2 linked regions of the Homo sapiens genome follow. The protein of the gene in region 1 purifies or fractionates together with the protein of each later gene. This does not show direct contact. Each region holds a gene or a part of one and is shown on either strand. Other genes may lie near its edges.

Evidence for each region.
Region 2: the proteins of ZDHHC21 (region 1) and URM1 purify together in Homo sapiens (affinity purification with mass spectrometry; one large-scale study listed by BioGRID and IntAct). This does not show direct contact.

The regions. Positions count from the first base shown.
Region 1 is NC_000009.12:14,658,933-14,662,432, reverse strand, and holds part of ZDHHC21 (palmitoyltransferase ZDHHC21), read left to right. Parts: intron 1-106; coding exon 107-218; intron 219-3,500. UniProt on the Homo sapiens protein: Palmitoyltransferase that catalyzes the addition of palmitate onto various protein substrates. Palmitoylates sex steroid hormone receptors, including ESR1, PGR and AR, thereby regulating their targeting to the plasma membrane.
Region 2 is NC_000009.12:128,369,878-128,374,173, reverse strand, and holds the start of URM1 (ubiquitin-related modifier 1), read right to left. Parts: upstream 2,801-4,296; 5' UTR 2,794-2,800; coding exon 2,759-2,793; intron 1-2,758. UniProt on the Homo sapiens protein: Acts as a sulfur carrier required for 2-thiolation of mcm(5)S(2)U at tRNA wobble positions of cytosolic tRNA(Lys), tRNA(Glu) and tRNA(Gln). Serves as sulfur donor in tRNA 2-thiolation reaction by being thiocarboxylated (-COSH) at its C-terminus by MOCS3.

The DNA.
Region 1 (3,500 bases):
GAGTTTTATGTTGAAGGCTTCCTATAAAATCTTCTAAACAACTGTTGGTAAATTTCAGCATTACCCACTTGCCTTCATTAAATGGATTTTAATTTCTTTTCTTTAGAAAGGGAGTTCTGGGAATTATGTAACAAGTGTAATTTGATGAGACCAAAGCGTTCCCATCACTGTAGCCGCTGCGGCCACTGTGTGAGGAGAATGGATCATCACTGTCCATGGTAAGAATAATTCACTTCTAGCAAAGAAAAGAGGGGTGGGTAATAAAATGTAAATCTTACAACTTGGCAGCTTTAAACAACAGTTATGTTAAAGTTATATAGTTTTACAATATCTTAATAAGGATATCTTTATTTAGATTATATGGTTCTGTCAACTCCCAAAGTCATTTTTCCACAGAAATCCTATCTTTTCTAACAGGGAGAGATTTGAGCCAAAAAAGTAAGAATTAACTGCAGCCTGATATACAAAAGGATTAAGGTGGTTGTATTAAATGAGGCAATGTATATAAAACATTTACTACAATATCTGACAAGTAGGATGTACTTAAATGGTAGCTATTTCTAATTGTAATAAACCATATGCATCCGAATGTTTATATCCCCTTTTCATTTGTTTAATTAATAACATTTCAGACACCCTGATAACCTCTTCCTTACCCCTTAAAGCTTTTTAAGCATTATGTATTGGATATAGCTACTACCATTATGTACTTGTTGGAAGTATGTGAGTGATAATTAGCTGATTCTGCAGAACTGCTAACAGTTTTGGTCAATAGGGGGCTCTCTTGTAATATTTAAAGAAAATGTTCAGTTGAGAAATATAATCTTCGAAAACAAATGCTGCGTGAATTCTGTATTGTATCTCATTTTAAAGCTGTCACAAAAATCTGTGAACAAGATATTGTATTTAATTCTGTTTTCTTAGCATTGGCTCTCTGTATAAATATTTAAACTGGTATAGTGTAGAATTTGACAAATGTATCTGTATACATATATGTAGTATTTATGTTTGTATACACATACATGCATATATGCAAATTTACATAATGAGCCTCTTAATTTATAATTGCTTTTATTTAAAATTGATGCAAGTGGAGTTTAGCTTTTTCTAATGTTAGTCTATTTAGAGTTTTCTTTATTTTTGATAACTTATTTTGATAGCACAGTTATTCAGCAAACTTCTGGTGGAAATTTGTTTTTTTGCATAGACTGTTTAAAAAGAAGATAATTTCCTGAAATAGGAAAAAGTAAGAGCATTTTCGATAAAAGCATTTTGTTACTACATAAAAATTTTAAAAATTTCTAAATCTGTCAACAAGATAGAGTAGTGTATGACATATAGTTGATATTCAAAACTGTGCCTTGAATTTAAACGTAAATAATTATTTGGGAATTACTTGGGAATAAAGATTAATTCCCAAGTAATTTTCTTAAGCTCAGTGATCTGTTTGCTCTCACAATAGTAATAGATTTTTAGAAAGCTACGTGAAACATGTATTCAGATAATTGCTGATCATACAGAAAAGCTCAGTTTTTAAGCGCTTCTTATTGTAGAGTTTCTTATTCACTAAAATACAAATGTTCATGATGGAAGTGGATATTGATGCTTTTTTTTTCAAACGAATGCAGTAGTAAGAAAGAACTAGGAAAGACTCACTTATTGGTGACCAAATAAGGTGCTATTTAACCTTAATTCTAACGTTGGGGTGATTTCTCTTTCTGGGCCTCTTGCTTCCATAGTTTTAGTCAACTTTTCAGAAGTTGGTAGCAGTGAGGGGGAAGTACAAAGGATTGGAGGATCAGAAAGGAGAGTAGACAAGGGACCTAAAGAGATTCAGGAATTTTTATCATTGAATTTCCTGATAGAGCACTGCTGAAATGTTCAGAGAGCAGGGGAAATGTACAGTGTAAATTGGAAGCAAGGAAAATTTTTGATGTTTTCAGAAATTGCACTACTTAACTGCCTAAGACATTTTTAGGTTTGGAGGTCAATTCTCACGTTGCCTCAAGGTTTTCTGTATTTGTGGCTCTGATCATTCTTTTTTTTTTTTTTTTTTTTTTGAGATGGAGTCTTACTCTGTTGCCCAGGCTGGAGTGCAGTGGCATGATCTCAACCTCTGCCTCACTGCAACCTCTGCCTCCTGGCCTCAAGTGATTCTCCTGCCTCAGCCTCCCGAGTAGCTGGGATTACAAGTGCATGCCACCATGCTTGGCTAATTTTTGTATTTTTAGCAGAGACGGGTTGTCACCATGTTGGCCAGGCTGGTCTCAAACTCCCAACCTCAGGTGATCTGCTCCCCTCGGCCTCCCAAAGTTCTGGGATTACAGGCTTGAGTCACCGCGCCTGGCCTGATCATTCTTTCTAAGTAGTGCAGATGTTACAAAAAGAACTCATATAGATTGAATACCTTAGTGCTTCTTAAAGCTGTTCTGGTTAAGAAGAATGCTGTGATCATAGACATTGTTTCTCAAACTTCCTGGGGACAGGAAAGATGGAACAATGATAAGTCATCTTTCAATCGGCAGCTGTTGAAGAGCACTTTTGAGTGTATATTAATACATAAGCACACTTCTCTTATAATCCTGCTTGCAAATAACAAAGCACAGTAGATTTTCTTGTTTACAAAACATGCACTCTTAAATCTTAAGAAATGCCTCTCTAAGGTTTTTCAGTTCAGGTCTGTATTTGACTTTAAAAAATGGTTTAATGACAAAGTTAAAAAGAGCGATTTAAGTTAGGACCGAAACCTGTTACATCGTTTCTTTTTCAGTGACAGTATAATACTATTTTGAAATGAAAACATTTGTGCAAAGTCATTTGTAGTCTTGAACTAGGGTTTTTTGCTGGAATTTTAGGATACTTTGACAATTTGGATACAATAAATTTGGAACAATAAAATATTCAGCTTAAATTAGCCTTGAAAATTTTTTATTGTAACATTAATCCTCTTTCCTAGTTAGGGTTCACTGTTGTATTGGTGGAAGTATAGCTGTGTGTATTTATAAATAGTTTTGAATACATTTTTATTTTCAGCAACCAGGGGTAGATTTTTAAAATGAAAAGTGAATGCTTAGCAGTTATGTCAGAGTGGTATGTTTCAGCTGGTTTACTTCAGGGCATTCAGATTGCTTTTCACAGCTAGAATGCCCTAAAGGAAGAGCAAAATACAGGGAAGCAGGGTTCTTGCTCTCTTGGCCCCTATGTCTTCTAACTCTACATCCTCTGGCCAGAGGCTTAGCTCCTTTGTTCCCTGTTTCCATATCAGTGACACAGGAGACTACCGTCTGCTCTTCCTGTCTCGCTGAGTTGTTATGAGTTGAAGGGGGATCACATATGTGGACTTCCTTTGTGAAGTGCTTTACAAATATAAGATGGTATATTTATAGTTTTCTCTGTATAGTTTGTTTTTACCTTCAAGTGGCCATAGCATATCTCCATGAAGTTAAGCATATGTGATATTATTTGTTTTTAATTTAGTCTTATTGATCCTGAGGTGAACT
Region 2 (4,296 bases), about 110 Mb from region 1:
CCCAGCCTCAAGAGTGATTCAGGGAGGCAGACAAGGGGCCTGTTCTAGCCCAGGAGAGACCAAGGCCAGACTCTCTTATGTCTTATAAGATCTGCTATTCAAACTCAACTGACATATCTCCATCTTCCTTCAACCCCCCCAATTCTTGGTGGATGTGTTTGTAGATACCAGTGACAGGTATAGATATTCTCAAAACCACCTTCACCTTTTCTGATGTATCTTCATCTTTTAATCTTCTGTATATACACATACATATACACGTATATATATATTTTGTTTATTTACTTCCTCTCCACCTGCTGGGCTGCAAGCTCTGCCTAAAACAGGGCCTGGCACATGGTAGACACTCAACAAATATCTGCTAAAGGAAAGGAAATGCCCATTTCTCCCAGTTCTTCTCTGACCTCAATGACATTCCCTCCTTTTGCCAATACCTCCCCAACTTGGGAAGGAGGAAGAGGGGTGGGACGGAGAGAACTCCATATCTGGGCCTTTACAACATGGACCACAGGGACACAAAACACAACTATATTACATACTTTGAATCCTGCGTGACCTGAGAAAACGCTCTGCTGAGAACAATTCAGGGGGAAGACAAAGGGTGGCAGACGTGGTCACTGACAAGAAGGAAGGTGTTAGAGGCCTTCCAGAGGGTCTCTGGAGGAGCTGGTGGGGCCAAGAGGACTACATCTGCTCAGGAGGGAGACCCTTCCAGAACTGGAGTGGGAGTGGGGCCACTAAGGGACAAAAGAGAGAAAATGAAGGGCGTGTTAGCCTTTGCAAATTTGCTCCAGTTCTGGATAAGGGTGAATCATGTCTGCTAAGATACATAGGAAATGAAAGAAAGGTCAGGGCAAAAACGTGCATCAACACAAGGACAAAGAGAGAAGGAACCTGGGTTGAGCATCATGTTGGGCATTCCTGAGAATGCTGCAATTTTCATGGAACGCTGTGCTGTGACAGGAGGTGATAGAAGGTGGGTGGGTGGGTGGGTGGGTGGAGGAATGTTGTCCTGCCTTGCCAGGGGTCATTATTGCTCTTGGAGGTAAGGGAGACTGAAGTTAGAGATGATTGGGTCAGAAAAAGGGCAATTGTGCTGGTTTGTAAGCTCTGGAGAGCAATGGCCCCATCTTCCTCACATGACTTCCCCACTGAGCTAGCACAGTACCTAGCAGAGACATTGTTGATAAACAAAGACCATGTCTGACTCATGAGGATGAAAGGCAAGTTGTCTGCAGATAAATCTTCTTTTTTTTTTTTTTGGTAGAGATGAAGTCTCCCCATGTTGCCAAGGCTGGTCTCGAATTCTTGGGCTCAAGCAGTCCTCCTGCCCAAGCCTCCCAAAGTACTAGGATTACAGGCATGAGCCTCCATGCCTGGCCCAGATAAATCTTAACACAGCAGTCTGTGGCTTCTCTCTTTCCAGCTCTGCTGAGGCCTGTCAAGGAAGCAGGGATCCTCCTAGAATCCCAGGCTTTGGGGAGTGTAGCTGGGCCAAGGGTCAGTGAGGCAAAACAGTGAGGAGTCCAGACCAATACAGTTCTAATTGGATCCAAGCAGCCAGACAATATCAATTAAAATGCACTTAGTCATGAGACTTACCCCCCTTCTAAGGGGCAGAAATGCTGAACGCTGTAGGGCACGGACAGACTTCTATTTATCTTTGTATCCTCAGTGTCTGGCTTGCTGCCCGGCACATGGTAGGCACTCAATAAATGGCTGGTGAATGAACTACCCAATTAAGGGAAAACATGAAAGAAATGGGAGGCATCCAATGAGAAGAAAGGCACTGGGCAGAGGTTTTAGATTCCCATCCCAGACTTTTCCTGTCACATAGACCTTGGCTTATCTACACACACACAGGCACACACACACACCTACCTATTCCACACACACACACACACATCCCTACCTATTTCCTCTTTTCCACGTGATACTGTAAAGTACACCACCCATCTTTCAAGGCCTGTTTCTTTGCCTTCTCTCTAAGCTCTGCAGTTTCCCTCAGCTTTGAAACCATATGACAAACCTGTTTGTAGGAAGCACAAATAGTGCCTTGGGTAGACTTCCTCCCTGCTCTGTGTTTCTTCAGTAACTGGTGTGTGTCCCAATCTCTGCATTTTTCATCTTGTGTATACTATACTGTCCCTGTTAGTTCCCTTCAGTGTGATTTCTTATTTGTCCCCGTGTCTCCACCTGACTCCAGTTCTGCAGAAGGCAATCAGCAAGTTTACTGACTGTCCTGAAGGAGGCTCAGGTCTGTTTACCATCCCCAAGTCTTAGGAAAGAAAAAGAAAAAAGTCCCGCCCTGGCCACTACATCCCACGAGAAACAAGACCTTAATAACAGTGTAAAAAGAAACTGCTGCCCAAAGAATGAAATCAGCGGGTGGAGGGTGGTCCTTCTAGGTTCTAGGAGCTCAGATGCCAAACAGATGGGATTGGTCCGAGATAGGAATGGAAAAGAAGAGAGAGAGGCTGCCTGCTAACAGTCACGACCTCCGACTCCGGCGGAGCACAGGGCACCGAGTGGTACACAGAGAGCATTTCCCTCCCAATGTGCGCCTCTATTTCCGGACAGACGGCCTCACTGCCAAGAGAGACTGGCCTCTCAGACTCTCCTAGGCGGGTAGCGTAGCTCACAGCGGGCACTGGGACACCCAGTGATTCGGCCGTGTCAGGCCCCACGGCAGAAGGAAAGGAATTCTGGGCCCGACGACTTCAATCCATCCCCACGGCGCCCCAGCTCTGTGACTCACCCGAACTCCACCTCCACTGACAAGGGCGCAGCCATGTTGAGGAAGCCGAGCTCGCAGGAAACTCCCCTCAACTTCCGGCGCGCCCGCAAATTTCCGGGCGTCTCCGGGTGCCGCGGACGGAAGAGGCGGTGCCCAGGGATCCAGCTTCGTCAGCTGTTGGAGGAAGTCATCGAGGGGAGGGGAGGGGAGGGGAGGGCAGCGGAGGGAAAGGGGTGGCAGAGGGACTATCACCGGCGCTGTTGGGGCTGTGAATCGGTCTCCTTCCGTCTTTCACCGACTGGGCTCAGAGACCCAGGGTGGGAAGCGCCTTGTACGGGACCACAAGCAGGCGGAGGAGAGCCCCCAGGTTTTTTGCGACGTGACCGTGAGCCACGTAGCTGCTTATCTTGCATGAGTTAGAATCTCTTCAGTCTACACACCGCTTGGGCCAGCCCATCTACTCGTCTGGTTGGAATTATAAATGACTCCCAGATCTTTATTTCCGACCCAGAATCTCTCCTGAGCGGGCGACTCGCTATCCAGCCGCCCCCTTTGCTGTCGATTTGGAAGTCACTCGTTCAACAGCTGTTCATTGCGCCTCCCTGTGCCAGGCATTTTGATCGGTGCTAGTGGTAAAGGGGATGGGCAAGGTTCCTGCCTTTAGGGCACTCACAGTCTAGCGGGGAGACTAACTGTAATCAAATAAGCATACTAAGACATGTACAACCTCAAACTTAAATAAAGGAACTGAAGTTATAGGAACTTCAAAAAGAAAACTGAGTAGACTGGACTTGCTGGGCTCTAAAACCTGAGTAAACTAGGTGGCTGTGAGGGGAGAGAAACCTCTAGGAGCATTCCAGTGAGGAGGACAAAAGGCCCAGAGGCTCTGGGTGAGAACATGCTGGAACATGGAGAGGAAGGTGGAAGTTAGGGAGCCTGACTTTCATCCATCTAGAGAGGGAGCTGCAAAGGTGCTCAGGGGCCAACCCCTGCCTTGTAAGCAGGTAAACATTTCAGTCTCTAGGAGCAGTGGGAGACTACTGAAGGGTTTTGGGAGACAGTGACATTTTAGAATTGTGTTTTAAAATATAATTTCTGGCTGCAATATGGAGAATGATTTGAGGGGAATAAGGAAAGAGACACGGAGACCACTGGAGCCTGTTGCAAAAGCTCAGGGCAGGCCGGGCGCGGCGGCTCAGGGCAGGCCGGGCGCGGCGGCTCACGCCTGTCATCCCAGCAATTTGGGAGGCCGAGGCAGGCGGATCACGAGGTCAAGAGATCAAGACCATCCTGGCCAACATGGCAAAACCCTGTCTTTACTAAAAAAATACAAAAATTAGCTGGATGTGGTGGCGTGCGCCTGTAGTCCCAGCTACTCGGGAGGCTGAGGCAGAAGAATCGCTGGAACCCGGGAGGTGGAGGTTGCAGTGAGCTGACATCGAGCCACTGCACTCCAGCCTGGTGACAGAGCAAGACTCTGTCTCAAAAAAAAAAAAAAGCCCAGGGCAGAAATGGAATGAAGTTGGCCAGGCACAGTGGCTTATGCCTGTAATCCTAGC